5 separate regions of the Homo sapiens genome follow, and all the other regions are reported to be linked to region 1. Evidence: microRNA targets listed by miRTarBase, many of them from high-throughput screens and not tested one by one. Region 1 holds a microRNA gene; each other region holds the end of a gene's coding sequence.

Evidence for each region. Region 1 holds the annotated microRNA hsa-miR-6845-3p (CCUCUCCUCCCUGUGCCCCAG, at 2,991-3,011, opposite strand). A microRNA usually pairs through its seed, bases 2 to 8, with sites in the 3' UTR of a target mRNA and lowers its output. Matches are read on the target gene's strand: a 7mer-m8 pairs with bases 2 to 8, a 7mer-A1 pairs with bases 2 to 7 and ends in A, and an 8mer does both.
Region 2: the mRNA of SKA1 is a reported target of hsa-miR-6845-3p. Seed matches in the 3' UTR shown: 7mer-A1 at 715-721.
Region 3: miRTarBase lists HHAT as a target of hsa-miR-6845-3p. Seed matches in the 3' UTR shown: 8mer at 3,255-3,262.
Region 4: miRTarBase lists TFAP2B as a target of hsa-miR-6845-3p. Seed matches in the 3' UTR shown: 8mer at 3,559-3,566.
Region 5: the mRNA of TSKU is a reported target of hsa-miR-6845-3p. Seed matches in the 3' UTR shown: 7mer-m8 at 2,013-2,019.

What each region holds. Positions count from the first base shown.
Region 1 is chr8:143,834,766-143,840,885 of GRCh38, forward strand. MIR6845 (microRNA 6845) reads right to left here and starts at 3,051; the gene lies at 2,991-3,051. NRBP2 (nuclear receptor binding protein 2) reads right to left here. Exons shown (of 18, transcript NM_178564.4): 1 at 5,941-6,120; 2 at 5,342-5,464; 3 at 5,164-5,265; 4 at 4,971-5,060; 5 at 4,744-4,784; 6 at 4,549-4,643; 7 at 4,407-4,430; 8 at 4,252-4,335; 9 at 4,118-4,173; 10 at 3,915-4,010; 11 at 2,858-2,990; 12 at 2,642-2,744; 13 at 2,484-2,534; 14 at 2,274-2,409; 4 more. The coding sequence starts at 6,069. The coding sequence ends at 897. RefSeq lists enhancers at 2,056-2,783, 6,095-6,120 and a silencer at 6,110-6,120.
Region 2 is chr18:50,391,836-50,397,955 of GRCh38, forward strand. SKA1 (spindle and kinetochore associated complex subunit 1) reads left to right here. Exons shown (of 7, transcript NM_145060.4): 7 at 264-2,333. The coding sequence ends at 412. Among named protein-coding and RNA genes, the nearest start is that of SKA1, 20 kb to the left of the region's middle.
Region 3 is chr1:210,673,005-210,679,124 of GRCh38, reverse strand. HHAT (hedgehog acyltransferase) reads right to left here. Exons shown (of 12, transcript NM_018194.6): 12 at 2,835-4,837. The coding sequence ends at 4,746. KCNH1 (potassium voltage-gated channel subfamily H member 1) reads left to right here. Exons shown (of 11, transcript NM_172362.3): 11 at 1-811. Among named protein-coding and RNA genes, the nearest start is that of HHAT, 350 kb to the right of the region's middle.
Region 4 is chr6:50,842,101-50,848,220 of GRCh38, forward strand. It overlaps TFAP2B (transcription factor AP-2 beta), which reads left to right. Exons shown (of 7, transcript NM_003221.4): 7 at 992-5,519. The coding sequence ends at 1,292. Among named protein-coding and RNA genes, the nearest start is that of TFAP2B, 26 kb to the left of the region's middle. RefSeq lists an enhancer at 454-959.
Region 5 is chr11:76,794,807-76,800,926 of GRCh38, forward strand. It overlaps TSKU (tsukushi, small leucine rich proteoglycan), which reads left to right. Exons shown (of 2, transcript NM_015516.4): 2 at 803-3,338. The coding sequence starts at 811. The coding sequence ends at 1,872. Among named protein-coding and RNA genes, the nearest start is that of TSKU, 15 kb to the left of the region's middle. RefSeq lists enhancers at 1-484, 485-1,390 and a silencer at 4,373-4,632.

The sequences.
Region 1 (6,120 bases):
ATCTCTAAGACTGAGCCAGGAGTGGAGTGGGAGAGAGGCAGGGAGCCAGGAGCTGACATCCTCAGAGGCCCAGGGAGCAGCTGCCCCAGGGAGGAGGTGCGGGAGGTAACATGGAGGGGCTGTGAGTCTGAGGAGCAGGGAGGATGTGGGGTCCCTGACGCCTCCAGGCCAGGGAATGCATGAGAGAAAAAGCCCATTGGAGGGGCTGCAGTGGCCAGAGGAGATCTGCAGAGGGGCTGCAAGTTCTGGTCTCAGGGTGGGTAAAGGGTCAAAGAGGTGGCTCTAGGGCAGAGCTGTGTGGGACCAGGGGCTTTGCTGACAACAGCCTCAACTCCAGACCTCTCTGTGGTCTGTTTCTCCTGCCAGGTCCCTGTTGTGCCCAGTGCCATGCCTGACACCTGCAGGTGTGTCACCGCTGGCTTGCTGTGCAGGCTCCTTGTGTGGGTCTATGGTGCCAGCAGGGGATGGCTGCTCTCCCAGACCCCATGGAGCAGTTCCCTGGGCAGAGGTCTGTCCAGGGCTGACCCTCACCCCCAAGCCCCAGAGCTGGGGTTCCCTACAGGGCAGCCTCCTGCATGCTGAGGAGGCAGTGGCCCCGGCCAGGCAGCCTGGGTAGGAACTCAGGGCGGAGAATGGAGGATATGGGAAGGGGTTCTGGGGGCAACCCTGATCCTAAGGACCTGGGAGGCCTAACGGCTCCCCCACACCCACCCCCCAACCCCTCGGCGCCCAAGGCAGGGTCAGCCCCACTCTCAGGAGACGGGGGGTTCCTTCACTACCGGGGCCTTTGTGCTCCCAGGCGCATGGAGGAGGGCAGCCCCACGGTGCTGGAGTCTCCCCAACATGGCCTGCCCAGGCAGCACCCCGGCATGGTCCCCTGGGGCTGGGGCTCCGGGTCAGGCCTGGGTCCCACGGTACTTGAGGAAGGTGCTCTCCAGGAAGGCGGCCAGCTTCATCCGGTCGTCCTGCGGAAGGAGGGAGGCATGGGGGACGGAGGGGCGCGGCCTGCCCCGTGCGCCCCCTCCGCCAGGCCGCGCCGCACCGCCCAGCGCACCTCGTGGAGGAAGCCATAGTGCACGAGCTCCGAGGCGAGGTCCTGGGCGCTGTCCGCTGAGGCAATGGCGTAAGGCGAGGCATGAGGCCGCTGCCCACCCGCCGCCTGGGGTCACCGCCCGCCGCCCAAGTCCCCTGCCCAGCCTACTTGGGAGCAGGTCGTAGGTCAGCTGCCGGTGCAGCCGGTCTTCCAGCACCAGAAGCAGAGTGAGCTGGGGAGGCGGCGGGGCGTGGTCGGCTGGGGGTTCAGGGCTCCGCCACGCTCCCGCCTTCCCCACGGCAGCGCCGCCCTCCCAGGCCCCGCTCACATGCCAGCGCGCCTTGTCCTCGCTTCTCTCCAGGTTGCACTGCATCTGGATGACCTGCAGCGGGGGAAGGCTGGGACTCACAAACCCAGCAGCAAGACCACATGCCGCGGCCCCAAAGGGGCCGGGAAGGGACAGCAAAGACTGGAAAGGGGGGAATCTCTAAGAGGAGCCCATCTCACTGCTAGTGGCTTGGCAAGCTAAGGAAAGCTTCGAGAAGAGTCGACATTAGGGGCTGGGTACTGAAGGCTGAATAGGAGCTTTCACCGCGGAGAGAACAACTTGAACAAAGAGGGAACTGTGGGCGTGGGGAAAGGGAGGTTGGGCGGGACAGGACCGCGCCGAAGTGCACGGTGCCTGCGGGATCAGGCCTCCCAGAGCCTGGGTGTCAGCTGAGGACTCCCATGATCTCTGCTGGCAGCCAGGAGCAGGCAGTTTGCCTGTTAGGACATGAATTCTGGCTGCACTGCACCGAGAGAGGCCCCTGGCCAGGAGGGGGTGCTGCAGGAAAAGTCTGGGGAGACACCAGGACATAGATGTCCGGGAATCAGCACCAGGTGGGGGATGGGAGGGGTGGGGGGGGTGGGAGGGGTGCGGGGGTGGGGGAAGATTGCTGGCAGGGTGGAAGAGCCCGGGTGAGTTCTGGAGGAAGGATGCTTGGAGTAGGTTCAGGGCAGGCAGCAGGATGCAGGGGAAGGATCTGAGGGGACAGGGAGCCTCCCGGAAAAGGAGAGTGCCCAGCCTGTCCTATAACCCCCATGACCCCCACAAGGGGGTCAGCCTGGATCTGGTCTCTGGCAGCCAGGAGGAGAGCTGGGCTGTGGGGATGCAGGCCCTAAGAGAAGGAGGGGCACCTCTTATCTGGCTGTTAGAAGGTCTGAGGGATGGCACTGAGCAGCAGGAGAGGGGACTCACCTTTCTGGTCTCAGAGTCAAAGGGCTCTGGCGTCGGGGTCTTGGCCTTTTGGACCTCCTCCGGGGGTGGGGCCAGCACACGGGGCAGCCCCAGGGGTCGAGTGGCTGCAAAGTTCATCAGTGGGTAGATTCCATTCCTGGGGACACAACAGGGTGGCTGGGGGTTCAGGCCTGACAGCTGCCTGGCCCCCAACCTTACATCAGTTCTCACCTGACATCCTCCAGGAATTTGTCCAGCTCCATGAAGGAGACTTCCGAGTACCTGGCATGGAAGTGGGAGGCACATGAGGGGCTGGCCGGGGCGAGGGGAGGGGAGGTGCGGGGAGGGGAGGTGTGGGGAGGGGAGGCTTCTGGGTGCTGACTGCTCACCGCCACTGCAGCGGGGGCCTGCGGGGCCGGGGAAGCTCCGCCAAGACCGCGTGCAGGTCCATGGCCTTGGTCTTCTCCTCCACCACATTCTCAGGCATGAGGTCTGCGGCCACAAGAGCATCAAGGCGGTGTGCTCAGGCCGTGGGTCCTGCAGGGCCCCTTCCACGTCCCAACCTCCACCTCCCCAGCCACCCCCCGGGCCGGCCTGCTGCTCACACTGGTGCTGGATGAAGCAGTGGGCTGCCAGGAGCTTCAGCGAGTGCACCTCGAAGAGCACGCGGTGGAAGAGGAGGCTGTGGGCAGAGGGCCGGCGGGCAGGGTCCCGGGCCAGGCAGCAAAGGATGAACTCCTGGGGCACAGGGAGGAGAGGCTGGTGGTGTGCAAGGGCTCTCTGCTCTGGCCCCGCAGTTCGAGGAGAGGTGGCCCCTGAGTTCCCCATGTCCCTCCTCAGGGACACACAGGACATGCAGGGATGCCCATAGGGAGGAGTCCCAGCAGCAGCAGCCAGGCCAGGACCTGGTCCTCTGAGCTTGAGGACAGCTGGGTTCTGGGATTGGAGCACCATGCTCTGCTTCCCTCGACCCCCAAAAAATCGTGGGGAGAAGCCATGATCCTAAAGTCACACCTGCAAGCCTCCTACCCATGGCCTTTTGATCGGCTCAGCTCGGGCCCAACACTGGAGACGACCTTGATGGGTCCCCACTCTGTCCACATCCGTGCCCAGCCCGGCTCCAGCTCGCCACCAGCCCCGACCAGGCACCCCCATCTCCTGAGGCCATGGAGTTAAGTCTAGACTCCGAGCAGAGGGGGCTGTGGATGCAGCTTCCATCCCATACCTCTTTTTGCCTGCTTGGCACCCACCATGTCCCCCCACAAGCTGGAGCCTCATCACCTCCTGGAAGCTTAAAGTCAAGGACTTGGAGTGAAGCAGACCCAGGTGCAGATGTTGGCTCCACCACTCACTCTAAAGCCTTGGGCAAAGGACTCATCTCCTCTGAACCTTGGTTTCTTTATAAAACGGGCATGGTGATGGCAGCCACAGAGGGAGGGTCTCTCTTGCCTTCTTGTCCTTAGAATGTGCTGACCCCTTAGGGCCTTCAGGCCTGGAACCAGTATGTGCTCCCACTGAGGTCCTCTTTGGGAGGGGTGCAGTCAGCTGGTATACCCCTCAACTGCACAAACTGTGATGTTCTCCCAGGTCTGCCTGGAGCACCTTGCTAGCCCTAGCTGAGCACGGTGAGCCAGCTGGGGAGGGGCAGGGCAAGCTGCTTACCCGCATGTTGGGGTCACTCAGCGAGTGCCTGGCGCGAGCAATGGCCTCCTCTGTGACCCGGGTGTCCCCATTGGTCTGGATTTCCAGTACAGCCATCTGGGGCACAGAGCCAGGTCAGGCATGGGGAAGGGACCACACAGGTGAGCCAGGCAGGGCACAGTTAGGAGGAGGGCAGAGCACAAGGTGGAGGGCGGGGGCAGTACCTCCAGCGCACACATCCCAAAGGAGAAGATGTCCACAGCGGTCCCATCGGCCACCTCTGAACAGAAGAGAGCACAGGACACGTAGGAGAGAAGCGCAGGGTAGGCACGGGGCACCCGGACCCAGCACCACTCACCTCCATACTCTGGGGGGAAGAAGTGCAGGTTCCGAAGTTCCTCTCGCTCAGCGCGGATGGGGCTTCGGAGATCATCTGGAAGTGCTGTGGGAGGGCGCAGAGCTGAGCGGGCGGGGACCTCTCCAGGACCCCGTCCCCCCAAAGTCCGCACTTACCATTGGAGAAGATTCGGTGCCACACTGCCAAGGGGCGGGAGAAAGAGTGGAGTTAGCTGCTGGGGCATCAGAACTCCTCTGCCCTTGGCTCCAGGCACCTTCCCCTGCCCCGTTCCCCCACCCAGCCCTGCCCCGCCAGCACCGGAGCCGATCTTGATGAGGCCGTTGTGCTGAATGAAGATGGTGTCGCTGGTCAGGTTCCCGTGGATGATTGGGGGGCTGCAGGCGTGCAGGAAGCTGCAGACGTTGGGGAGGGGAGAGTAGGAGGAGCCGGTCAGGAGGCTCTGGAGAGATGGGGGCTCGGTGGCGCCGCGCCCAGGCCAGCCCAGGCCCTCACCTGAGCGCAGACAGGATCTGCGTGCACCAGCGCTTCCAGGCCTGGCGGCGGACGCACGACTCCGTCGGTCGGGTGGGCGCAGGAGAGGCGGCTGGGCCTGCGGAGCCCGCCCCGCATCCTCGCCCAGCCCCTGTCCGAGGCCGCCGGGCACCCCCTCACCATCCCAGTCCCCGAGGCTGCCCCAACCCCGTCCTGTCCCCGTGGCTGCCCCAGCCCGCTCCCCATACCCGGGCGTTCATGGCCTTGTGGTTCTTCTTGGTCTTTTTGAGGAATTGCTTGAGGCTGCCTGATGACACGTACTCTGTGATGAAGATGACCTGCACGGTGCGAGCTCAGGATTTCCACCAGCTGCGGGTTCGTCCCCATGCCCGCCCCACCTAGCTGTGGTCTCTGCCTGCCCGGGGCCTTGCCCGTGCTCACCCTCGCGCAGGCCTCAGAGGTATCCAGCCAGTACTTGTGCAACTTCACGATGTTCGGGTGGTCCACCAGCACCAGCTGCTCGAACACGGTCTGGATCTTCTCCTGGGGAGGGAGGGTGGTCGCTGGGTGGTCAGCAGGTGGTCACCCAAGCAGGATGAGGAGGGGGCAGCGGTCTCACCTCGTGCGCCGCGAAGGCCTTCCTGTCTCCGAAGTGGAGCTCGTTCCACACCACCTCTACCCCCTCCTCCGTGTCCATGGCTAGGAAGGTGCTCTGAAGCCCTGGCATGTTCCCTTGGTTTACCTGGGGGTGAATAAAGGGTTATGTGTGCCCTGGTGTGTGTCAGGGTTGTGGGTGAGGATTTGGTCCCTGTCCACACCTTTCCAGTGGGCCCAAGCGTGGGCTGCAGGCCCTGAGCCACTCTGCGGGAAGGTGGGGCTTGGAGGGTAGCTGCCCCCAGGAGCCAAGGGCTCCTATCCAAGGGCTGGGCTAAGGGGATTTGGAGCAGGTTTCAGGGGGTCGAGGGGGATCCCCAGGAAGCTAGCGGCTGAGTCCAGAGGCATGGGGAGGTGGTCCTGGGAGGAGACTGGCCCTCAGGGAGTCCCAGGGCGAGCGCCAGGCCAAAGGGGTCCAGGGGTGGCTGATTCGCGGGCCGCGAGGGGCCGCGGAGAGGTTTCCAGCCGCCGCGCTCTCCCAGCGCCCCCACGCCCCGCGCAGCCTCCAGGCCCCTCCCGCTCTGGGAGGGCGGTGTCACCCCGTGCCCCAACCCCCGCGCCCACCTGCTCCCGTCGCTTTTGCCAGCGACCACACGGGCTTTCCTCCAGGATGTCGCTCTCGTCCTCGCTCTCGTCCTCCCGCTCCCGCTCCCGTTCCCGGGCCCGCCTCGGCGCCGGCTCCGGGGCCGCCATGGTTCGGCCAGCCCAGGCCACCGCCCTCTGCGCGATCCGCCGCCGGCGCAG
Region 2 (6,120 bases), not on the chromosome of region 1:
TTCTTATAACCACTATGTCACATTGCCTCTTGAAAAGTGAATTGTTCAAGCGATACCAACAGATAGCTAGTGACCTAATAAATATCATGCATGCAACTTCTGTTGATAGAATAATTATTATTTTAGCAAGAATACTAGTTCTTGGTTTTATTGGATACTAACAGTAAAAACGACTAATACCATTCATATTCACAACTTAATGTATTAAAGACTCTTTTGCAAGTTGGCCTTATAAAAATTAGCACTAATATCTTTATTTTTAGGTCGTTATTTTATAGTGGAAGCTGACATAAAGGAGTTCACAACTTTGAAAGCTGACAAGAAGTTTCACGTGTTACTGAATATTTTACGACACTGCCGGAGGCTATCAGAGGTCCGAGGGGGAGGACTTACTCGTTATGTTATAACCTGAGTCCCTTGTGAACTTTTGAACATACCAACAGGGTATAGAGTATAGAGGCTATTTCTATAATTTTCTTATATATAATTTTTTTAACTTTTAATCTTTTTTGTTTCCTTTTTTTTTTTTTTGAGACAGGATCTTGCTTTGTCACCCAGGGGCTTGCTTTGTCACGCAGGCTAGAGTGCAGTGGCGCAAACATGGCTCACTGCAGCCTCAACCTCCCAGGCTCAAGTGATCCTCCCACCTCAGCCCCCTGAATGGCTGGGACTACAAGCGTGCGCCACCATGCCTGGCTAATTTTTGTATTTTTTGGAGAGATGGGGTTTCACCATGTTGCCTAGGCTGGTCTTGAGCTCCTGAGCTCAAACAATCCACCCTCCTCAGCCTCCCAAAGTGCTGGGATTACAGGCTTGAGCCACCACACCTGACCTATTCTTGTTTCTTATAAAAATAAAACTTTTTTGGATAAAGCTTATTTCTTGTTTTTTTCTTTTTCTTTTTTTTTTTTTTTGAGACAGTCTCGCTCTTTCACCCAGGCCGGACTGCAGCGGCGCTATCTCGGCTCACTGCAAACTCTGCCTCCCAGGTTCACGCCATCCTCCTGCCTCAGCCTCCTGAGTAGCTGGGACTACAGGCACCTGCCACCACGCCCAGCTAATTTTTTGTATTTTTAGTAGAGATGGGGTTTCACCGTGTTAGCCAGGATGGTCTCGATCTCCTGACCTCATGATCCGCCCACCTCGGCCTCCCAAAGTGCTGGGATTACAGGCGTGAGCCACCGCGCCCGGCCAACTTATATATTTTCAAGATTCACCTCCTCTCACCAAATATTTAACTACCTGCTGAATACGCCTCTGTACTAGGCACATAATGGAACTAAAAAATGCTCATGTCCAGTTTTTGTGTTGAGTGAACAATGCTGCAGACCCTAATAAGATTGGGTACAGATCGGCATGCGCCTGTAGTCCCAGCTACTCAGGAGAATTGCTTGAACCTAGGAGGTGGAGGTTGCAGTGAGCCGAGATCGTGCCACTGCACTCCAGTCTGGGCAACAGAGCGAGACTCCATCTCAGAAAAAAAGAAAAAAAGACTGGGTACAGATGTGATATTGGAAGAAAAAGATCAAGCTGATGAGGTTAGGATACCCAGGCCCTTTGGACTTAAAGATCACTAGTGTCTAAATTCCATCGATGGCATTTCAGTCTATAGGTAAACTTCCTGGAAGCTGGATTTGGAGACAGTTTATCATCTGATTATTGGGCTTTCGTATAGGTCCTTAGGGAGCAGCTTACCTGAAATGCATTTAGTGTACACCAGTCTGTAAACTTCAACCTGTAATGAAAGTGTAATAAATGTACATTGAGTTGATGTGATAATGTGATATAATAAGAAATATATATTTGATCTTCCTATCTAGTTCCTTGTTCAGAGCTCCTAAAACCCTTGTAATTTCCAAAGTGATGGAGTACATCTTTTGTTCTAGTATTTGGTCTTTGACCCCAGTTCCTGACACAAAGCTCCTAAATTCCTTTAAATTTCCCAGTGATAGGAGAATTTTTTGTTCTAATGAGGTCACTCTTGATGGGCACCTGGATAACTCAGGATGGGGGCTGCTCACAAAGACCACATCATGATTGGAAGTTTCAAACTTTCAGTCTCCCACCTCCAGAGAGGGGAGAGGGGCTGGAGATTTGTGTCAATAATCCATCAGGCCTATGTCAACAAGACATAATCCGTTAACTATGGAGTTCAGGGAGCTTCAGGGTTGGCAAACATTTTGATGTGCCAGGAAGGTGACGCACTCCAGCTTTATGAAGTCAGCAAGTCCTGTGCTCAGGATGCTTCTGGACCTTGCCCCAGGTACCCCTTCATGTGGCTGTTGTTCATCTGTATCCTTTGTAGTAGCCTTAAAATAAACTGTTAAACACAAGTAAAGCATTTCCCTGAGTTCTGTATTGCCGTATCAAATTATCAAACCTGAGGAGGGGGTTGTGGGAACCCCCATGTGTAGCCATGTTGGACAGAAGTATGGGCAACCTGGGGACCTGCTAGTTGTGACTGGTGTTTGAAGTTGGGGATGGTTTTATGGGACTGAGCCCTTAAATCTGTGGGGTCTGCATCAACTCTAGGTATTTAGTGTCAGAATTCAATTAAATATAGGATACTCTGTTGGTGTCTAGAGAATTGGAAAATTGGTTGGGATGGGGAAAAAAACTCCACACATTTGGTGTCAGAAATATTATGTGAATGTAGTATAGAAGAAAACAGGCTTTTCCCTTGTTGGTGAAAAACATGATAAAATAATGTGTGGGTAGGTTGATAATAGTCAAGAAAAATGGGTAATGGGATTGTAAGAACTTAGCCATGTTTCTCTCAGGCACCTGGGGAGACTGGTCTGTCTATGTCTGTGCCATCTGCTTGGCAGGCTTGTCCCTGTAGCAGAGAAAAAATGTGTCTCACCAAGCCTGTGGCCTGGTTAACACCATCACTGTGATGAACACACAGACGCTGCATATTTACTGTTATCCTTTTGTTTTCCTTAATTTAAATACAGGCATGTTTAATTTTTCATGCCTCAACTTAAGTGAAAATAATGGCATTATTCTTTATTTTAAGTATTGTTTGATTTTTGATATGGTTTGGCTGTGCCCCTACCCAAATCTCACCTTGAATTGTAATAATCCCTATGTGTCAAGGGCAGGGCCAGGTGGAGATAATTGAATCACGGGGGTGGTTTTCCCCATGCTGTTCTCATGGTGTAATTAATGAGTCTCACGCGATCTGATAGTTTTATAAATGGGACTTCCCCTGCACAAGCTCTCTTGCCTGCTGCCATGTAAGACATGACTTGGCTCCTCATTTGCCTTCCGCCATGATTGTGAGGTCTCCCCAGCCATGAGGAACTGTGAGTCCATTAAACCTCTTTCCTTTATAAATTACCTATTCTTGGGTATGTCTTTATTAGCAGTGTGAGAACAGACTAATACAATTTTTCTTTTTCTCTTCTTCTCCTCCTTTTCCTCCTTCTCTTTCTTCTCCTCCTCCTTCTCTTCCTTTTCCTTCTCCCTCTCCTCTTCCTCCTTCTTCCCCTTCTCCTCCTCCTCCTCCTTCTTCTTCTTCGTCTTTGTCTTCTTCTTTGTCTTTATCTTCTTCTTCTTGCCAGAATCTCACTCTGATGTCCAGGCTGGAGTACAGTGGTGTGATATTGGTTCACTGCCTCCACCTCCCAGGTTGAAGCCATCCTCTCACATCAGCCTCCCAAACAGGTGCATGCCACCATGCCTGGCTTTTTTTTTTATTTTGTATTTTTTGTAGAGACAGAGTCTTGCTATGTTGCCCAGGCTAGTCTTGAACTCCCGGGCTAAAGCAATCACCCTCGGCCTCCCAAAGTGTCGGGATTATAGGCGTGAGCCACTGCACCCAGCCCATAGATGGTTTTAATAAGGATTCTGTGGTTATAAGAGTGTGAGATGTGCTTAGTTAAGTAAAGATAAGCAGATTTTATTATTTCATGACTTCTGAAGTCCTTCATCTTACCCATTTATTTTCTAAATCTCCAACAGAGACAGGCTGTGTAGTGGAGCACACATTCTACTTGTGGAGAGTTACTTCCATTACCTCTTTCGTTATTTCTGAGGAATACGTATTCATATCTCTGGGCATACTAATGCTCCATGAAATATGTTTTGGAAACATAAAGCAATCTGTTTTGCTTTATGACGTAAAGCAACCTGACATAAAGCAATCTGTTTTGAAACCCCACTCGTTTTTATTAATGAAATGTCATTACACAATCTTATTAGTAAATATATGTATGTAAAAGACATTTATTGAGGCAGTGTAATGGACTTTGGGGTGAGAAGGCTAACCAGAGTTCAAATCCTGGTTATGCTACTGACACGCAGTACAAGCTTCAGTTAGTTAATCTCTTAGAACCACAGTCTTCTTATCTTCTGTAACAAGATAATCACGGCAGTCACCTGGTTGCCCTTGCTGACTCCACTTGGGGGTAGGAGGTGAGAGAAGTACTGGTGAAACTTGAGAGTGCAATTAAAGGGAGATGGATATCCTAAAAACCAGCCCAATTGAGGCAGGAAAATAGGGTCTGGAGGCAAGGAACATAAGGCTGATTCACACTTCAGCTATGACAGGAAATATCCTCTCCATAGGGCGTAGGCCAAGTAAATGATTTTATCACTTCATCCTCTTCATTTACATAGGGCATACCCCAAGTAGAGGGTATGTAAACTCCCCAGAATTCTGTTACGGGGCCTTTGAGTCCCTATGCTCAGACCTGCTCCCACACTGTGGAGTGTACTTTCATTTTCAATAAAACTATTCCTTCCTTGCTTTGTGCATTTTGTCCAATTCTTTGTTCAAGATGCCAAGAACCTGGACACCCTCCACCATTAACACGATGCCTCTTCAGCCATCAAGCTTGATACAGTGCCCAGTGACAGTGACACTACAGTGTGATACAGAGGAGAGGAGAGAGGGGAGCTAGTACAAGGACAGTCTGGGCCGGGCGGGGTGGCTCACGCCTGTAATCCCAGCACTTTGGGAGGCCAAGGTGGGCGGATCACCTGAGGTTGGGAGTTCGAGACCAGCCTGACCAACATGGAGAAACCCCGTCTCTACTAAAAAAAAATACAAAAAATTAGCCGGGCGTGGTGGCGCATGCCTGTAATCCCAGCTACTCGGGAGGCTGAGGCAGGAGAATCACTTGAACCTGGGAGGCAGAGGTTGCAATGAGCAGAGATTGCACCATTGCACTCCAGCCTGGGAGACAAGAACGAAACTCTGCCTCAAAAGAAAAAAAAAAAAAAAAAAGGACAGTCTGCATCCCTTTGGCAGGGCAAGTTCCTGCCAGATGTCTGAACAGCACATGGACTTCTCTGCTTAAAGCGCCTTGCTATGGATCCTGTGGACTGGTTTAAACATACTGCCAACCTCCTCCAGGAAGACTGCCTGTTGGGCAAGGGTCCCCTGGGTGTAAGCTGATATGGAAGGGATAAGACGGGGTTTCTTGCCTCAGGGGCTGTGCAAGGGAGGCCGCTGCTTAGAGGGAAGGAGAGGGCTCAAACCTGCTGTTGAGGTAGAGATTTCCTGAAAGAAAAGATGGTAGCAATCACTTCATGAATAGTCACTATGTTCCCAGAAGGTCTGAGTCCTAAGGACCTTCCTCTGGAGCCTCAGTAAATTTACTTAATCTAAATGGGTCCAGGTGCTGGGGTAATTACCCTTATCTTGTCTCCTGCTAAATTAGAGGTTTGGGGAGTTCCTTCACACCCCCAATAAACTTGTTTGTGGAGGCCAGGGGAGTTTCTTCAGACCCACAGTAAAACTTATTTAATCCTAAATGTGTCCTATTAAGAATTGCTTCGTTATTTTGTCATGCTTTAAGGCCCAGGAAAGGCCAAGGCAAAACTCTTGGTGGGCTTTTGTTACATCCCAGCCTTTGTATAAGAGCACTAGCTTTTAATATTCAACTTAACCACTCAGTACTGAAACAGTTATTATGGAGGCCTGCATTAGTGAGACCTGGCCTGCCACAACTTAGGGAGAAAAGATTTTTTTGTCTTTCTACATTTTGATTATGATGTATTTGGATGTTGATGGTCTTGTATTTGTCCTACTTGGAGTTCTCTGAGCTTCTTGATACACGAATTTATGGTTTTTAATTAAATTTTGGAAGTTTTCAGCTATTTCTTTTAATT
Region 3 (6,120 bases), not on the chromosome of region 1:
ACTGACTGCAAACATCAGAGAAAAAAACATTTTCTCACCAAAGGTGTTCATGTTGAGAAGTTTTAATTTCTACCCCCTACAGCTCAAAAGAATCAATGTGAATTTATCTGCAGCTTAAATTCAAGTGAAACTTCATTCTCATGCAAGCATATCAGACTTATTCTGGAACCTCTAGAACTGGACTTGAATTCCCTGCAGGTGCCAGACTGGTGGGTGCCCTCCCTGCCTGCCATTAAACTTTTCTTACAGCCACTGTCCCTTTATCTGTGACTTCTGAGTCATCCGACGGATCCATTAGTTGTTCAATGAGAAGTTCACAGATCTTGTATCAGGATATAAACTGATCTTATGTTGAAGGATGCACCCTCCCCTAATGAATGTATTCTCTTAATATTCCGATGCTGTATTTGTGCATCAGTTGGAGACTGTCCACATCCGACATTTCACCGACACCTCAAGGACACTTCTACTTATGAGCAGTTCATCATTCTGGGGCTTCTCCTTATATTAATACTCTTTCCATTGAGTCCTGCCAAATCCTTTATTGGGTTTTCTTTTTCCTTTGCATCTGTCACTTTGTCCAAATGAGCATGAATAAACAAAAGTGTAAATGAGCTGATACTATTTTTGTGGTCAGCTGAGGATGCTGCCAAGAACACCACTGTATATCTGTGGCTTGGGAATGTTAAGAGGAACGTGCAGGCCCTTCCATTGATGATATTCCCTTCTCAACATTTTTAAACAAGCACAAATGATATTTGTAAAAAAAAAAAGTTTTATTTATTATGGTAATAAACTATTTTATACATGATACTTGCTTTTGCCTTTCCTTACATTACTTTTAGGTCACTGAATTGGCTGTTCTGACCTAAGATGACAGAACAAGGATGGTATTTTCTCTTCAAGAGTTTGGGAAGCTCTTATTTGGACAGCACTTATAGTTTTTTGAGAACTTAAAGTCCAAGATTCACCAAGATTGTGTGTCAAAGTACCAAATAGTGAGAGAATGGACATGAAGGTATGCAGCTGTACAATCTTAAAGTACAGCTGCAGCTGCTGTACAAGGGCACAGATGTTGACTTCAGTGCCTGGGATCACGGAAAACTGTATGACACACGGATCTGAGATACCCAAAGCTGACACCTCCCACCCCACTTAGATGTACACTTTTTTATTTTGAAAACTTTGGATTGAAATTTGTATAAAATATATTAATGCTTCCCTCCTGCCTTTTAAAACGTAGTATGAAGAATATAACAATCTTTTTTGAATGACTCAGTGTCTACAATATGAGCTCTGATCTGTGCTTTACACTTCATTGATAGTCTCAGAAGCTATTAAGTTAGCTTGCCTCTAATCGAAATAGTCCCATACACCAGCATGGTTTCAGTTTTGCTATTTTAATCGGTGTTGCTTCCTGCTCATGGCAAGGCTCCACAATACTGCCAACCTGAGTCCTTATTTACCATCCAGTGGACCACATTACAAACATGGCACTTCTCTTATTATAGACAGTATAACTTAATTAGGAGATGAGGAATCTGACCTACAAGCGTCTACTTGATCTTATAGGATCACAGTAGGGGTACAGTATTTTTAATGTTTCCTTACCCATGATTTAATCAAATTGCACAAAAGCATTATAAAAATAATAAGGGTGATATTGTTTAAAATTCCAAATTATTGATGTTTCAAAATTATCACTAATAACTTATTATTCTTTTTTTTTTTTTTCTTGAGACAGGGTCTCACTCTGTTGCCCAGGCTGGTCTCAAACTCCTGACCTCAAGTGATCCATCTGCCTCAGCCTCCCAAAAGTGCTGGGATTACAGGTGTGAGCCACCACACACAACCTAAAGCATTCTGTCTGATCTCTTCAATGTTGCAAAACATCTCTGTGAATATGATTCTTGTAATTAGTCAAAAGGACGAGTAATATAGAGCTAAGTAATGAATGCCATGTTTTGGGTGCCAAATGGAGTTCAATGATTTTAAAAAGAGGGTTTTTTGTTTTAAAATAAAACCATTTCCCTGAGAAAGCCTCAGAGAGGCTTTCTCAAAATGTGCTGAGGCCAGTAGTATCATACTTTGGCTTCTCATGTTGTCCACACTGAAGGGAACCCTATTGTATGGATATATTCTGATACATCTGCTAAAAACCAAACTCATTATATTACGGTTAATTTACTATGTTTAGTCAATGGTTATATTATTATTCTAAATAAGCAAGTGAGCAGTCTCACTTTCTGTCAGGAGAAGCCACCCCCTCCCCTACCTAAACTGCTATTCTCCCAGTATATAGATTATAATACAATTATTTGTTCATTGATTTATTTTTTCTTGAGGCCTGCTGTCTTTAATGAAACAAAATGTTTTCTGCTGACACTTCAAATTAATTTGAAAAAATAATACCTTTCAGTCTTCTTGTGTGGTCCCAAGAATTAGAATGACTGAGGTTTGGGTGTCCTTCAGGTATCTTGCTTCCCTCCTTGGGTAGCATCTTGGCGATTGTGCTTGGAGCTCTTGGGCTTGCCTGCAGAGCGAGGCTGGGATCAGAGGATCCAGGCGCTGGAATTGACCTTGGGACCTTGTCTATTCTTTTCCCAACACTGCGCCTGAAGTTGCCCAGGGCTGATGACATGTCCAGTGTCATTGCCTGAACTCCTCTGTGCGCCCAGGCACCACCATTCAGAGTAACTACAAGATTTTAGTGAATATGCATGAGGAGAGAAGCATTATCATTTTCATATTACAAGTGGGGAGTAGGAAGAGGTTAAGCAAAACAATGGTCCTGGATAATCCACATATTAATTAATCAGCCTCAAATACAGAGCTAAACACAGTAATCATTTATTAATTCCTGAGAACCATTATGAATCATATAATAGTTTAAAAGAGATTCAGGATTACCACTTTCAAATATATCCACTGACGCTTCCAAAGTAGTTTAATGAATGAATAAACCTATTTGTTTGTATATAAATGGTATACTTGGAAGAGCTCAAAACTTTTGTATTACTTATATGTGCACATACATTAGACACTTCCCTATCATCATTTTTACTCCCTTTTTTCTTAGCAAGCCCTTTCTTTCCAAGTAAACTTCAGTCAGACTCCCTCTGGCTGCCCACAAATCCTCAATCACTGTTGGTCCATGAAGGTTTACTGCGTTCATTTAGGTGCTCACTCCTCCCTGAGGCTCATCCCCTCCTAAAACTTCTGAGCACCCCGGAATTACTGGCCCCATGTCTCTCTCTCTCCTTTACCAAGACAGCTGCTGAGGCTGCTGCTATGCAGGTCTACCTGCCCCTCTCTGGCCTCTGTCTTGCTTTAACACATAATGTGCCTACCCCAGGTAGTCAGTATCTGGCCCCCTCCCATCTCTTTGCCAAGCAGAGAAGCTATGAAGAAAGACAATCAACAAAATGGTCCTGTACTCTAGGAGCTAAAGCCTCATTGAGATGATAACCTCAACTCAAGACATAAGGGCCATGCTATGTAATAAACAGGAGGCAGCACTAGGTCCAAGTGAACCTTTCACTCAATGACAACTTAATTTACGTACTTGAGATGTTGTAAATTCTCCTGTAATTAGATATATTATGGATTCAAATTTTAAGCCTCCTTTATACCCTTCCCCACTCCAAAAAAAAAAAAAATCCAAATTCAAACAAGTCTTCTGAATTATCTACCACTTGGGAACTTTGGTAGCCTATCCAGCATCTTTTCAGAGGAGTGAATAATCAAGTTATGTGAGTATATTTAGATTTTAAACATTTTCCTCAAACATATTCAAAATAATTCTACAAACATGTAGATTATCTACAGGACAGAAAAGGCTCTGTTTGAATCAAACCTTAATAATATAAACCACTAAACGTGAATCACTGAGTAGGAGGATGACTTTTGAGACTTGTATGGAGAGGGTGGACAAGACTCCAGGACACCATCCTCATGACTGGCCTTGATAACACCCATCTGTGGGTACACTATCCTGTGGTTTCTAAATTCTGCTTCTTTATTAAGAAACGATTAACTGTAAGGTAGAGGAACTACCATGTTATACTTCTCTGCAAATCTCAGAAACAAGCACCCAAATGTAGATCACCCTGCTGAAGCTCAGATCACAGGACTCCTTGGGTATAGATGCCTTAGAATGCTACAGGGCTGCTACCGTCTTCTTCGACTACGTAATTCAAAAGACAGCTGTGGCTTGGTCTCATTCCTACAGAGGGGCTGAAGCATGAAACTCAAACCCTAGTGCTGCTTCTGGAGATACTGCAGGATGTGATGAAGGAGGTCACTTAAACATCAATGTCACTCAAATATTTTAGAAATATTGCCCAGAAGACAGGCCTATCACTAATCAGGATTTCTGTGTCTCAATCAATAAATTTCCACTACATTCTATTCTTGCTTAAGGGGAAAGAATGCAAAGGGCTCATGAGACTAGGTTCTAGACCAAAATGTCACCCTGTGTAGCTGGGTAAGACACACGACTGCCCTGGACCCGTTTCCTCAATAGGAAAATGATGAGTTGGGGTAGAAGATCTCAAAGACTCCAGATTAGAAGATTGTCTGGCTGTGAATTTTCTATGAGATCCAGCATCCAGTCTTGGAGTGAGGGCATTCAACTGAAGATGAGCAGATCAAATCCCTTAGAGGCTGTCCTGGAGTGAGAGGTCAGGGTGAAGCACTATTTGCCTTGGAGGCCAGCAACAAGGACTGGCCTGGGCCCAACAGCATTAGTCCGTGGCGTAGGTCTGGGCCCAGGCAATGCCCACGTGGGAGTAGCAGTACAGGAATCCCAGGACAGAGAGGGTCACCCAAGGCCAGCCTGCAGAGGGAGGACAGAGATGGAAGAGCAGTTAGAAATGCTTGGGGCAGGACATCCCACATGGGCAAACTGTCCCCTTTTGGAGAAGGCAACCTGACAAACAACAAAGGCCTCCAGGAAAGTCTGCTGTAATGACAACTTCAGCAATTGAGTCCTACATTCCCATCAGAGTCAGCATAAAATGAGGAGTGCACTATTGCAAACACAAACCATGTTTATGACGAGTTAGTGGGTGCAGCGCACCAGCATGGCACATGTATACATATGTAACTAACCTGCACAATGTGCACATGTACCCTAAAACTTAAAGTATAATAAAAAAAAAAAAAAGAAATAGGGCAAGCTTTTAACGAATCCATGTTTAGAGCCAGGCACCTGTAATCCCGGCACTTTGGAAGGCTGAGGTGGGAGGATCACTTGAGTCCAAGAGTTGGAGACCAGCCTGGGAAACATAGTGAAACCTCATCTCTACCATAAATAAATAAATAAATAAATAAATAAATAAATAAATAAATAAATAAATAATAAATAAGCCAGGCATGGTGGCATGTTTCTGTAGTCCTAGCTACTTGAGAGGCCAAGGAGGAAGGATCACTTGAGATCAGGAGTTAGAGGTTACAGTGAGCTATGAGTGTGCCACTGCACTCCAGCTTGGGCCACAGAGTTAGACCCAGTATTGGTTTAAAAAAAAAAAAAAAAGAAGAATCCACGTTTAGAGGACTAAAGCAGTTAGTAATTGAAAAAGGAAAAAAGTCCATGAGTCTGAGTGTAGTCTCATGTGGCACTGTAAACATGTAGGTCATGTTCCAAAATCTGTACTTTTAGATGAGTTGTTTGAAATCAGGGTACGTTTCCCCCTAGAATAATATTGTGTGATTCATGGACAAGACACAAAAATCACCGTCATCATCACCGTTGTGTGTTTTTTTTTTTAAACTTGTAGTAAATGTGAAATAACACTAATAGGAGCTCTGAGCCCTGGGGCACTTAGGTTCCAGAAGCCCAAATATAGGGTCCTCTGTCCTTCTTGGTCAGCCTCCCCAGAGGTTTCAAGAATTCTAAGTGGTGAGGGGTGGGATAGAGACATGCAGACGTGGCTTGTCCTTGGCAATGAGACAGGAAGGCGCCAGCAGCCAAGAGGGAAAGGGTGCCGGGCAAGATCAGGAGGGTCATTTGATTGGGGCATCACAACATTTCACAGAGAGCTTTATAAATTTAAATTTTTGACATTTCTTTTGAATATGGCTAGCTAGGAAGTCATTACCTTTGTCAATCCAATTGTG
Region 4 (6,120 bases), not on the chromosome of region 1:
TTTCCTAAACCCCACAGACCCATAGGCTGGGTACAGGCAGGTGGACATGAGAAATCTGCCCATCTGTGAAAAGCTGTGGCCTTTGGGATGCTGTGTGTCTGCCTGCCAGCCATTTGACCTTCAGGGCTAGAACCATCCCATCCAGCTCCTATATTAAAATTTCTCAAATAAGCTCAATCCATAGGTAGGCACGCAGGATTTCTAAGGCTGGGAGATTCCTCTAAATTGTAGGTGGCTTGAGGAAATAAAAACCTTCAACAAATAAAAATCTATCCTCCCTAGTGTCTTAACAGCCTACCTTTAGGTTTTATTTAAACTATATGGGAATCCTTTTATATTGACAACAGTCTGGTTATACAAAGATTTTCAGTGCCCTACACTTGGAAGAAAGAAAGGAGGGAAAGGCAGAAACTAGCTCCCTCCCCCAATACTGCAGGTAAACAGGTTTTTGCTTTGAATGGAATCAGCATTCTCTAGAATAAACAGTTTCTTGCCCTGGGCCATGGAAGGCTCCAGCAATCTGCTTCAGTGCCAGGGACAGGCTTGTGGCCGAGGGGCCTAAATCTTTCAGGGCTTTTTGCGCCTGATCACCAAGAGGTTGGAGAGGTGGGAGGGGCGCGGGGGAAACAGCTCAAAAGAAATGCCAGGTAAGAGCTCAATATTATGAAGTATTAAAAATCAACTGCTAAAGCCTAGCGAATGTCCCAAAGCGAGTCCAGGCGGTCCTGGAATGGAGGGGAGAAAGGCTGAAGTCGGGGGAAGGCAAGGCTTTGGGGTGGAAGGGGTGCATTACCTCCCCACCCCCGCTTTCCTTTCAGTCCCAGCTGCTCGAGAAGGGAGGGCGCTGGGAAAGGAAACAGAGCGGAATCGCCCACATTAGCCTCGCTCTTCGGTGACCCGGCGCCTCTGGGCTTGTGTGAGCGTCTCCTTTCTAATGCCAATGACAACGACACTGAGGGTGATTTTCTGTGCCTCGCCCACCCCTTTGCAGGCAACTTTGTAAAGAATTTACGGATCTACTGGCGCAGGACCGGACACCGATAGGGAACAGCCGACCCAGCCCCATCCTGGAGCCGGGGATCCAGAGCTGCCTCACGCACTTCAGCCTCATCACGCACGGCTTCGGCGCCCCGGCCATTTGCGCCGCGCTCACGGCCCTGCAGAACTATCTCACCGAGGCGCTCAAAGGCATGGACAAGATGTTCTTGAACAACACCACCACTAACAGGCACACGTCTGGGGAAGGCCCAGGTAGTAAAACTGGCGACAAGGAGGAGAAACACAGGAAATGAAAAATTTTTAAAAAAAGAAGGAAAAATGTTTTAAATACAAAAGGAAAAACAGACAAAAATTTAATTTTAGCTTTAAAATATTGGATTGGCTTTGGAAGAATTATATTAGGTAGAATACACATACAATCAAAATTTTAAAAAAAAAAGCTAAATAACTTAAAAAAAAACTGAGGCGTACAACGGAGCAACAATATCGGTTCTCAGTGTCTATTTCAAGATACATTTGGAGACAACCGTCCGGATTTTCCACTTCGGTTCTTTCGAGTTTAGTAATACTGATAATAAAAGAAAACCATGATTTCCCCTTCCCTTTGGAAAATAAACATAAGACTAAACATGAGAAAAACGCTAACTTATTGGAAGAAAATCGGAGAAACGTTGGTGTCAATGCTTTGAGAGCTGGTTGACTGAGACGCACGAACTTTTTAATTTTAAATATATTTTTAGGAAACTCTCGCAGTCCCCGCCCTCCATCTCACCTCACCCGTCTCCCAACCACCCTTTTCCATGTTACCCTCCCTTCCTCACATTGTTACGGGAATCTTCTGGGATGAAAATGAGTGTGGTTGGCCCTTTTGCGTTGTTTCAGTCCTCTCGGTACCTCCCCGCCCAGCCCTGCGATCTTAACTCACCGGGCCCGGCTCCCCGGCCGCTTGCATAATTAGGGAGGGCGAGGGCGGGGCGGGAGGCCTGTGGAGACCAGGCGGAGGCTGCAATTTTTGGTGCCGGCCGGCAGAGCAGGTTCTGGCGGCTGAGGAAAATCCGGACCAATAAGTTGATTCAAACATCATCAGTTCCTTTCAGAAATGTTACTAGCTCCCAGCCTTGCCAGCATCTGCATAGAGAGAATCTCACATTTATTATATTTGTGTCATCTACTAATTTTATGAACTATAGTAAAAAAAAAAAAACACACACACACACAATATGAATACGTTGATTAGTATGTAATTCCTTCGGAGGGGTATGTACCATTTCATTCTCTTCTGTTTTCCAAAGCTTTGCCCGCATGGTTTATGAGCTTCTTCAAAGAGGACTTGGGCTTCCTACACAATCTATAAGGTACAGAGAAAAAAAAATCCGATCCCTTTTTAATCAAAGCCTGTGTGTCAGAATTCTGCAGGTGCACTTCTTTAAAGAAGCTCAAAGGGAATAATTTAGAAAGTGGCCAATATGATGGAAGCAGCTTTGAATCTACATGCTAACATTCCTCAACACTCCAATTCCGGTGGAGGTGGCAGGGGAGGGGGTCTGCAAAATGAATTTTAAGGGAAAAGAGTAAGGATTCTTAGAGCCCTATATTCTAATAGTATTGCCCTGCATTTAAAATTGATTTGATTTCCCTGGGTTCTTTGGTGATTGCTGTTTAAGCAAGGAAAGAAGCAGCTTTACGAGTGGACGTGGGGAGGAGGGCGGCACAAGCACCCACATTTCTGTAACAATTGCTTTCTTACAAGATGCTTTATGAATGAGGCATTTTTCCCTCCCAGACGTGCACTTGTTTTGGCATATAATGGCAAAATAATGCAAAGTGAAGGGAGATGTATTTCAGCTTTGATTTTTACCGTCTGGATACATCGGGACTATTCCCAGTGGATAAAGTTTCATGCATTTAATATTTCTCACTTCTGGCAGCCCAGCTCCTTTCTTGGGCTCCATCTTAGCATTATCATGAAATAAGATCTGGAATCCATTGTCTGCACCTCCGCAAAAGCAGTGAGAAATTATCCCGGGATAAGGGTGAATGAGAGAGGTCTCTAAATATAGTGTTGATACACTCACCTATTTAACAAAGTAGACGAGATCTTTGCAATACCCCTTAAAGATAACGACATAGATGTTGTTCTGCAGGATTTATAGTTAGGACCCACTCAATTCTCCAGGACTCCCGGTTTTGCCCCCCTCCCGCTTTGCCTTGGTGGGGGTGGGGATTGGGGGAGTGGGGATTGCGTTGGGGTTTTAGGAATCTGCTGAGAGCTTTGCCCATTTTTATTAAAAGAGGAAAGGGAAGTTAGGAAGCTCGTCTCAGGTCACCAAAAGGGCCCAAGCAACTGTTAGGGCCACACTGCAGCCCATCTCCAACCCCTAGCTTCGTTTAGCACTTCTGATCTTCATGGCCCAGCCCTAGAACTGTTGAGAGGAATGCAATGGCCAAGAGCTAGACGTTACGGAGAGTGTAGTCACTCTCTTTTCCCAGCTCAGAGGCCTGCGCCTTCGTCCGAGAGCTCGGCCGATCGCATTAGATGTGTTCTGATTGCACAAGGCCAGGAGAGACCACACTGAAAACGATCGTCTCCTTTCCTTGCAGGGCAACGCGCCCCACGCGTGTGACGTGCGAGAGACGCGATGGACGCGCCTTGCTCTTACTGTGCAGGTCCTGAGAGCGTGTGGGCCACAGGCGCCCAGTCGTGTTGAGGACATAGAATCAGCCGCTGGAGGGGCTGCCGACTGCGCGGGCCCTTCCCGCTCTCGGTCTCACCCTAAGGGCTAAGGCGACCGAGAAAGCCCCATTCTCCAGTAGGTAATGGGGCGGCGCCCGGTGGGCTGCAGGTGGGGAGGGCTCCCAGCGCCGCCAGCGGCCACCCGGGGCGCCGGCTCCTGGAGGGAGAGTGGCCTAGAAATATCCAAGGAATCCGAAGCTTCCCCTCCTCCACCTCTGCCAGTACGGAAACACCCCACCGTCACAATCCTAAAGCGGGGAGATGGGATGGGAATTGTCTTACTTGGCAAGGCAGGGTACCTTCATTGCCAGACGCCCTCATTTGTGTGTTCCTCCTTGCTCCAGCGAGATAGAACCTTTTGCGCCCCCAACCCCGTTTCGTGGAGTGAGCCCACTACCCCTTCTCCCTCCCTCACTTCTCCTTTCATGTAGGACCCCCGCCCCCTTGCTTTCCTTAGCCAGGCCCGCTACATTTATCTGATAATTGAGTTATTAAAAGATTTGGTTTCCTTGGGCCTATAAATCAATAAACAGTAGGATTAACGCAATAGTTTGCCTTTTAAGTCAAGGGAGACGTTTAAGGCAAGCCCCTTTGAGCTTTGTTTTCAAACCAAACAGGTGAGTTGCAGCTCTCCCCCCGGCCCCTGCACTCTTCAGACATTTGGTCCCTGCCCACTCCTAAACGCTCAGTCCCAAAACAAAATAGCGAAAGACAGGAGGAGTCAGGATGTGGCAGTGCTGCCTTCACACTTTCCACTTCGCAAGTTCTTTTAAAGGTTCCAAAGATCTCCAGACCATTCTCTGCCAAACCCTGCCGCCTCCTGCACGTATTGCAGGTCTCTGGGGAGCAAGAAATGTCCTGTTTGGGTGAGGATTCCGTCACCTAAAAAGATCTTTAACTTCTCCCCCAAAGTGGGAAGGTAACTTTCTCCCCCTTTTCCCCACCACCTTCACTCCTACACCCCCAATTACCTTGCATTTTCTTTCCTTCCTTCTGGCCTCCACACCCATAGCTTTCCTCCATCCCCACTTAAAGAACCGAAGAGGCTTTTAAAGACCTGGCTGCTTTGTTTTCCTTGGCCAAGGAAGCCACTTTCTCTCAAGCAATTATTTCATATCCTACGAAAACTTTGGTCGAATGGAAAACTCGAAACCTCGAGCTTATCTACACACTGTTCCTCTGCTACAATGCTTTCCTAGTTAAGAGTGTTTATAGAGAATTTGTCATCACATCTGATATCCTGTACTTGTAATACATTATGTGGAAAGGAAATAACCTTAAACCGTCTGATGTTGCCTCAAGAGCCCAAACGGCGTTTCCCCACCTTTGACGATGTATGTGAAATTACTGGCTTAAAAAAAAAAGTATCAATTTTTTTTTAACGGAATGAACACTATCCTTCTTTAAATGCCAAAATCGACTCCACCTTTGAGTTGGTCTCTAATTCTCTAACATTGTTTTTGCCACACAATCAAGAAATATCAATCTATTGACTCTTCACGAGAAGAGCTCTGGAGGGTATTCATGTTAAGTTTGTATATATTTATTTATGCTTAATTTAATGGGAATGTGTAAATATGGCGAGCAAGTAGTTTGGGATTATTTATCTGTGAATCTATACCTCTGTGAATGGGTGGTTAAAAAACCTCTTGACCCTAGATAGAATCCTATCTGAATTTTTCTGTTCTTTATAAACAAGCTGTTATGGTAATGGGTAGAAATTGGTTTATTGTCCAGTGTTAATCTGATTTACATAAATAAAAAGATTGTTGTGTTTTCATCTTCAGTTTCTTAAATGTGGACAATGTTTTTAATTCTACCGACAGAGGAAAAGTGTAAGAAGCTTTTTACTTTTTGTCCTCCCCCATCGAAGCACCCACAGCGTTTTCATTACAACAGAAATATAATAAATTTTGCTTCTCAGAAAAATGAACTTTTTTTCACTAGGAGAAGTGTTTTTGATTTTTTTAAATTCCAAATTTACATTCTTCTCTCCTATTTCTAACCAGATTTGCAATAAAAGCTAATGTTAACTGAATCTTTTGGTTTCTTCTGCCCTTTACAAATCGAGGAGTCAAATTTACTTCCCAGGTAACTAGAGGACTCTGGGTTGCTGTCAGAGATGATGCTCCCTTCCCACTGCTCGTGGGTTGGCATTCTGGCATAGTGTTCTAAGAAGGAGATGGTGCACGGTGCAGGAGAAGTCTTCAGGGCTGGGTGTGGGCTCCTGCACCCCTCAACTTGGGATATGAAGGAGTTAACCCCCATTTCAGAATTGAACCCGACCCTGACCTCATTAGCAGTGCAAGGCCCTCCATAAACAATGGAGGAAAAAGCTCCCTCAACTGAGAAGAGGAAAAAAGTGTACATGTCTTAGGAAGTTGGGG
Region 5 (6,120 bases), not on the chromosome of region 1:
TAGGGGGACAGGGCAGGTGGAGTATGGGTGCGGTGGGGCAGTCACTGCAGGCCCCATTGCAGGGAGGGAGTCCTGGTCTTGAAGGCCAGCCCCGGCCAGACCACAGGTGCTTTCTCTGTCAGTGTCCCCTCTAGTGCCACTCCACTCTGCTGTGTGGCTGTCCAAAAGCGTCTTAACCTAAGGCCCAGTTCCCTTTTGGTAAAACAGAGAATTTTCTGCCTTGGAAGGTGGTTGTGAGGGTCAGATGCGACCATGCTGTGGGGCAGCCAGAACAGTGCCTGACGTGTAACACTTGCTCAGCAGAGAGTGGGGCACCCTGGGCACACCCTACCCTCAGCCCTGTGGATGAGCCCCTCACCCGGGGCCCGAGGTCTAGACCAAACCAGGGACTCTGGACCATCAGAGCTGGAGAGGCCAGCCCGAGAAACCGTCTAGTCTGGTGGGTTTCAAACTGGGTTTCCTAACACCCTAGGCAGGGATGGTGGGCAGAAGTCGAGGGCTTCAGGTCCCCCTCACTTCAGCCAGACCAGGCCCGCCTTCATCTGCTGCTCTTGTTTAAGAAAGGGATCTGCTGCTTCTAGTTGAAAATTCACCACCTGGCCTCACGCCCCTTACCATACAAATGGAGAGGCAGAGGCCAGAGAAGAACTGGGACTAGGAACTCTGGGGAGTGTTCCAGGAAGCATTCCAGGAGGTCGGGGTCTGTGACACCTTCCAACAGTGTCTAGACTGGGCTCATGTCCTGTGTGGTGGCTTTAGACCATCTGGTGCATTCATTCCTCACCTGTGGCTCTCTTTCTAGCCCCCACCATGCCGTGGCCCCTGCTGCTGCTGCTGGCCGTGAGTGGGGCCCAGACAACCCGGCCATGCTTCCCCGGGTGCCAATGCGAGGTGGAGACCTTCGGCCTTTTCGACAGCTTCAGCCTGACTCGGGTGGATTGTAGCGGCCTGGGCCCCCACATCATGCCGGTGCCCATCCCTCTGGACACAGCCCACTTGGACCTGTCCTCCAACCGGCTGGAGATGGTGAATGAGTCGGTGTTGGCGGGGCCGGGCTACACGACGTTGGCTGGCCTGGATCTCAGCCACAACCTGCTCACCAGCATCTCACCCACTGCCTTCTCCCGCCTTCGCTACCTGGAGTCGCTTGACCTCAGCCACAATGGCCTGACAGCCCTGCCAGCCGAGAGCTTCACCAGCTCACCCCTGAGCGACGTGAACCTTAGCCACAACCAGCTCCGGGAGGTCTCAGTGTCTGCCTTCACGACGCACAGTCAGGGCCGGGCACTACACGTGGACCTCTCCCACAACCTCATTCACCGCCTCGTGCCCCACCCCACGAGGGCCGGCCTGCCTGCGCCCACCATTCAGAGCCTGAACCTGGCCTGGAACCGGCTCCATGCCGTGCCCAACCTCCGAGACTTGCCCCTGCGCTACCTGAGCCTGGATGGGAACCCTCTAGCTGTCATTGGTCCGGGTGCCTTCGCGGGGCTGGGAGGCCTTACACACCTGTCTCTGGCCAGCCTGCAGAGGCTCCCTGAGCTGGCGCCCAGTGGCTTCCGTGAGCTACCGGGCCTGCAGGTCCTGGACCTGTCGGGCAACCCCAAGCTTAACTGGGCAGGAGCTGAGGTGTTTTCAGGCCTGAGCTCCCTGCAGGAGCTGGACCTTTCGGGCACCAACCTGGTGCCCCTGCCTGAGGCGCTGCTCCTCCACCTCCCGGCACTGCAGAGCGTCAGCGTGGGCCAGGATGTGCGGTGCCGGCGCCTGGTGCGGGAGGGCACCTACCCCCGGAGGCCTGGCTCCAGCCCCAAGGTGGCCCTGCACTGCGTAGACACCCGGGATTCTGCTGCCAGGGGCCCCACCATCTTGTGACAAATGGTGTGGCCCAGGGCCACATAACAGACTGCTGTCCTGGGCTGCCTCAGGTCCCGAGTAACTTATGTTCAATGTGCCAACACCAGTGGGGAGCCCGCAGGCCTATGTGGCAGCGTCACCACAGGAGTTGTGGGCCTAGGAGAGGCTTTGGACCTGGGAGCCACACCTAGGAGCAAAGTCTCACCCCTTTGTCTACGTTGCTTCCCCAAACCATGAGCAGAGGGACTTCGATGCCAAACCAGACTCGGGTCCCCTCCTGCTTCCCTTCCCCACTTATCCCCCAAGTGCCTTCCCTCATGCCTGGGCCGGCCTGACCCGCAATGGGCAGAGGGTGGGTGGGACCCCCTGCTGCAGGGCAGAGTTCAGGTCCACTGGGCTGAGTGTCCCCTTGGGCCCATGGCCCAGTCACTCAGGGGCGAGTTTCTTTTCTAACATAGCCCTTTCTTTGCCATGAGGCCATGAGGCCCGCTTCATCCTTTTCTATTTCCCTAGAACCTTAATGGTAGAAGGAATTGCAAAGAATCAAGTCCACCCTTCTCATGTGACAGATGGGGAAACTGAGGCCTTGAGAAGGAAAAAGGCTAATCTAAGTTCCTGCGGGCAGTGGCATGACTGGAGCACAGCCTCCTGCCTCCCAGCCCGGACCCAATGCACTTTCTTGTCTCCTCTAATAAGCCCCACCCTCCCCGCCTGGGCTCCCCTTGCTGCCCTTGCCTGTTCCCCATTAGCACAGGAGTAGCAGCAGCAGGACAGGCAAGAGCCTCACAAGTGGGACTCTGGGCCTCTGACCAGCTGTGCGGCATGGGCTAAGTCACTCTGCCCTTCGGAGCCTCTGGAAGCTTAGGGCACATTGGTTCCAGCCTAGCCAGTTTCTCACCCTGGGTTGGGGTCCCCCAGCATCCAGACTGGAAACCTACCCATTTTCCCCTGAGCATCCTCTAGATGCTGCCCCAAGGAGTTGCTGCAGTTCTGGAGCCTCATCTGGCTGGGATCTCCAAGGGGCCTCCTGGATTCAGTCCCCACTGGCCCTGAGCACGACAGCCCTTCTTACCCTCCCAGGAATGCCGTGAAAGGAGACAAGGTCTGCCCGACCCATGTCTATGCTCTACCCCCAGGGTAGCATCTCAGCTTCCGAACCCTGGGCTGTTTCCTTAGTCTTCATTTTATAAAAGTTGTTGCCTTTTTAACGGAGTGTCACTTTCAACCGGCCTCCCCTACCCCTGCTGGCCGGGGATGGAGACATGTCATTTGTAAAAGCAGAAAAAGGTTGCATTTGTTCACTTTTGTAATATTGTCCTGGGCCTGTGTTGGGGTGTTGGGGGAAGCTGGGCATCAGTGGCCACATGGGCATCAGGGGCTGGCCCCACAGAGACCCCACAGGGCAGTGAGCTCTGTCTTCCCCCACCTGCCTAGCCCATCATCTATCTAACCGGTCCTTGATTTAATAAACACTATAAAAAGTTCTTTGCTTTACTCAGCCAGTGTCCACTGGCAATCCCTGGGCTGGGCTCTGGGGCCACAAAGATGAATCAGGTTAGGCCCTGCCCTGGGCAGCTTGTTCTCCCTGAAAAGCCTGATAATCTCAGGATTTGGGGAGTAAGGTGACGTGAAGGAGGGAGTTCCTGCACCCTGTTCACCTCTCATCTCCCGTGGCCCTACCCCACTGTTCCTGCCACCCCAGCTCCAGCCATAGCCATGAGCATGCAGGCCCTTGCACACCTGTTCTCTTGCTCAGGCGTTACTGTGGGACCTTGCCCTTGCCCTCACCCCTGTCTCTCAACCTCCTTCCTATCCAGTAGACCTAGTTCTTGCCCGCCCGCAGAAGCTTCCTTGGCCCCTTCCACCTCCCTCCTCTGAACTGCAACAGTATTTTGTTCTTCCTTGGTGCTTCAGCTGCTATGGTACCCCAGCTCCTGTTTGCACACTTCCACTGACAGAGATCACACTTGGAGCTCATCTGGGTGGCTCTGCTGTCACCAAGTTCTTCCTTCTAACTGGCCAGTCTACAGGGAATGTCTACCATCATCACCAATGACAGGTTTTTCCTGATCCCTACTCTGTGCCCAGAACATTCAGGCCATATGCACTGGTGGGAGCTTGCCCATCTTGTAATCAGGCCTCCCCAGGGAGAAGTATCAGCTTGAGGCCCTGGGTCCGAGGCTGGCACCCAGCGGTCAAGGTAGGAAAGAGCTGAGGCTTGGCGCCGGGCGGTGTGGAGGAGAGGGAGGTCAGGGTGAGACCCCGGGCCCCCACAGTCCTCCTGTTTGTTCTCCACTTCCCCTACATTTCCTGGGACAGGAGAGGATTCAGATGGAGGTAGGGATCACGGTACTTTCACCCAATGGGTCCGGGTCTTCCCAAGTCCCCGCTTGTGGAAGGAGTCCTTGCGGGAGGGCCATGGAACAAAAAGGCCTTAAAGACAGGGCCAAAGCGTGCGGAGGGCAGCGAAGGGAAGGAGGGGGCTTCTGCGGCAATCAGTTCTGGAGCAGGTCACCTCCGCCCGAGCTGCAGCTTCCTCCTCTGCAAAACGGGGCAGGGTGAAGGCCCAGTGAGAGCATGGGCGCGGATGCCATCACGCTGGGCGGGCTCGTCCTTCCCGTGGGGAACCTGCCCTGCACCCCGCAGCCCTGGCCTCCTGCCAGCCATAAGGAGAGCGGAAGCCCCGGCGGGCCTCGCCGACCCGGGAGTCCGCGCGGCCCCTCCCTGCCCGTGCGGAGGCTCCCGGCCCGCAGCGCCACCTCGTGCTCACGCATGGCCAGACACCCCAGATCCCAGCGGGGCCAAGAGCCAGGACCGGGGCGGCTGGAGGCCAAAGTGGGCTGCGCTGTTTGCTTTATGCGGCCAGTCCCTTCCCGCCCACCAGACTACCCTCGCCCTGCCGGACTCCGCCCTCCAGGAACCCTGGCGCCCAGGGCGAGGGCTTCGAATCTTACACAATCAGGAAAATTCGTGCAAAGAATCCGTTTTGGAATTCACAGAAAAGGGTTGAAATCTTGGGGTCATCACTAACCAATTGTGTGATTTTTGGCCAGGTCACTTTACTTCTCTGAGCCTGGAAAATAGGGATGAAAATATCTCCCTCAAGGCCGGGCACGATGGCTCCTGCCTGTAATCCCAGCACTTTGGGAGGCTGAGGCAGGAGGATCGCTTGAGCTCAGGAATTCAAGACTAAGACCAGCCTGGGCAACATAATTTAAAAATCTAAAAATTAACCGGGCATGGTGACGCCTGTAGTCCCAGCTACTTGGGAGGCTGAAGTGGGAGGATAGCTTGAGCCTGGGAGGTTGGATGACAGAGTTAGACCCTGTTTAAAAAAAAAAAAAAAAAAAGCAAAGAGAGAAAAATAAAAATAAAAGAAAGACAAAAAAGAAAGAGAAACAAACAAAGAAAGAGAAAATACCTCCCTGAGCCTGGGAGGTTGAGGCTGCCGTGAGCCGAGATTCTACCACTGCACTCCAGCCTGAGTGACAGAGCTAGACCCTGGAAAAAAAAAAGAACGAAGGAAGGGAGGGAGGGAGAGAGAAAGGAAGAAAAGAAAGAAAGAGCAAAAAAGGAAGAAGGAAAGAAGGAAAGAAGGAAGGGAGGGAGGGAGGGAGGGAGGGAGGGAAAATATCTCCCTCCACAGGACTGTGTGTAGAAGAAATGAAGTAACATTTGTAGAGAACCAAGTACGGTGCCTGGCACAAAATGGCAGCCTCTAAGTGCTCTTTCCCGCCCTCATCCAACCATGGAGTTATGAAGTAGATTACAGAGCCATGTAGTCTGAGTCTGTTTTTTATAACTCGCACTCAGAACTGAAGAATTTTGTAAAGTTCTGGGACTGTAGAATCACAGAACGACACCCGGTAATCCACAGGGTCATGGAGTAGGTACTCACCGTCAGCTGTGGCCCAGCTCACCACCATGGGTCAGCAGGGTCACCAGCCTCTTTATGCCTTTCACAGTAATGCAGCGGCCAGCTATGGCTATGTGTTCCTCATGCTTTGTGTACATGCCATCATCTCCTCACAACTGCACCAGGTGTTTTTGTCACCATACAGATGAGGAAACCAGCATAGGCCAGGCTTTATCTGTCAGGTGGCAATTCTCACATTCTTCCTTGTCCTACCCCAGGGGCCGGGCCAGCTGTGTAAATCCCATGAATCAGAGAGGGTAGAGGTGCACTGATAAACCAAAAAGCACTGGGATTCCATTTATTTTTTATTTTCAAATAAGTTGCAGAAGTTATGCAGTTCTACATAGCTC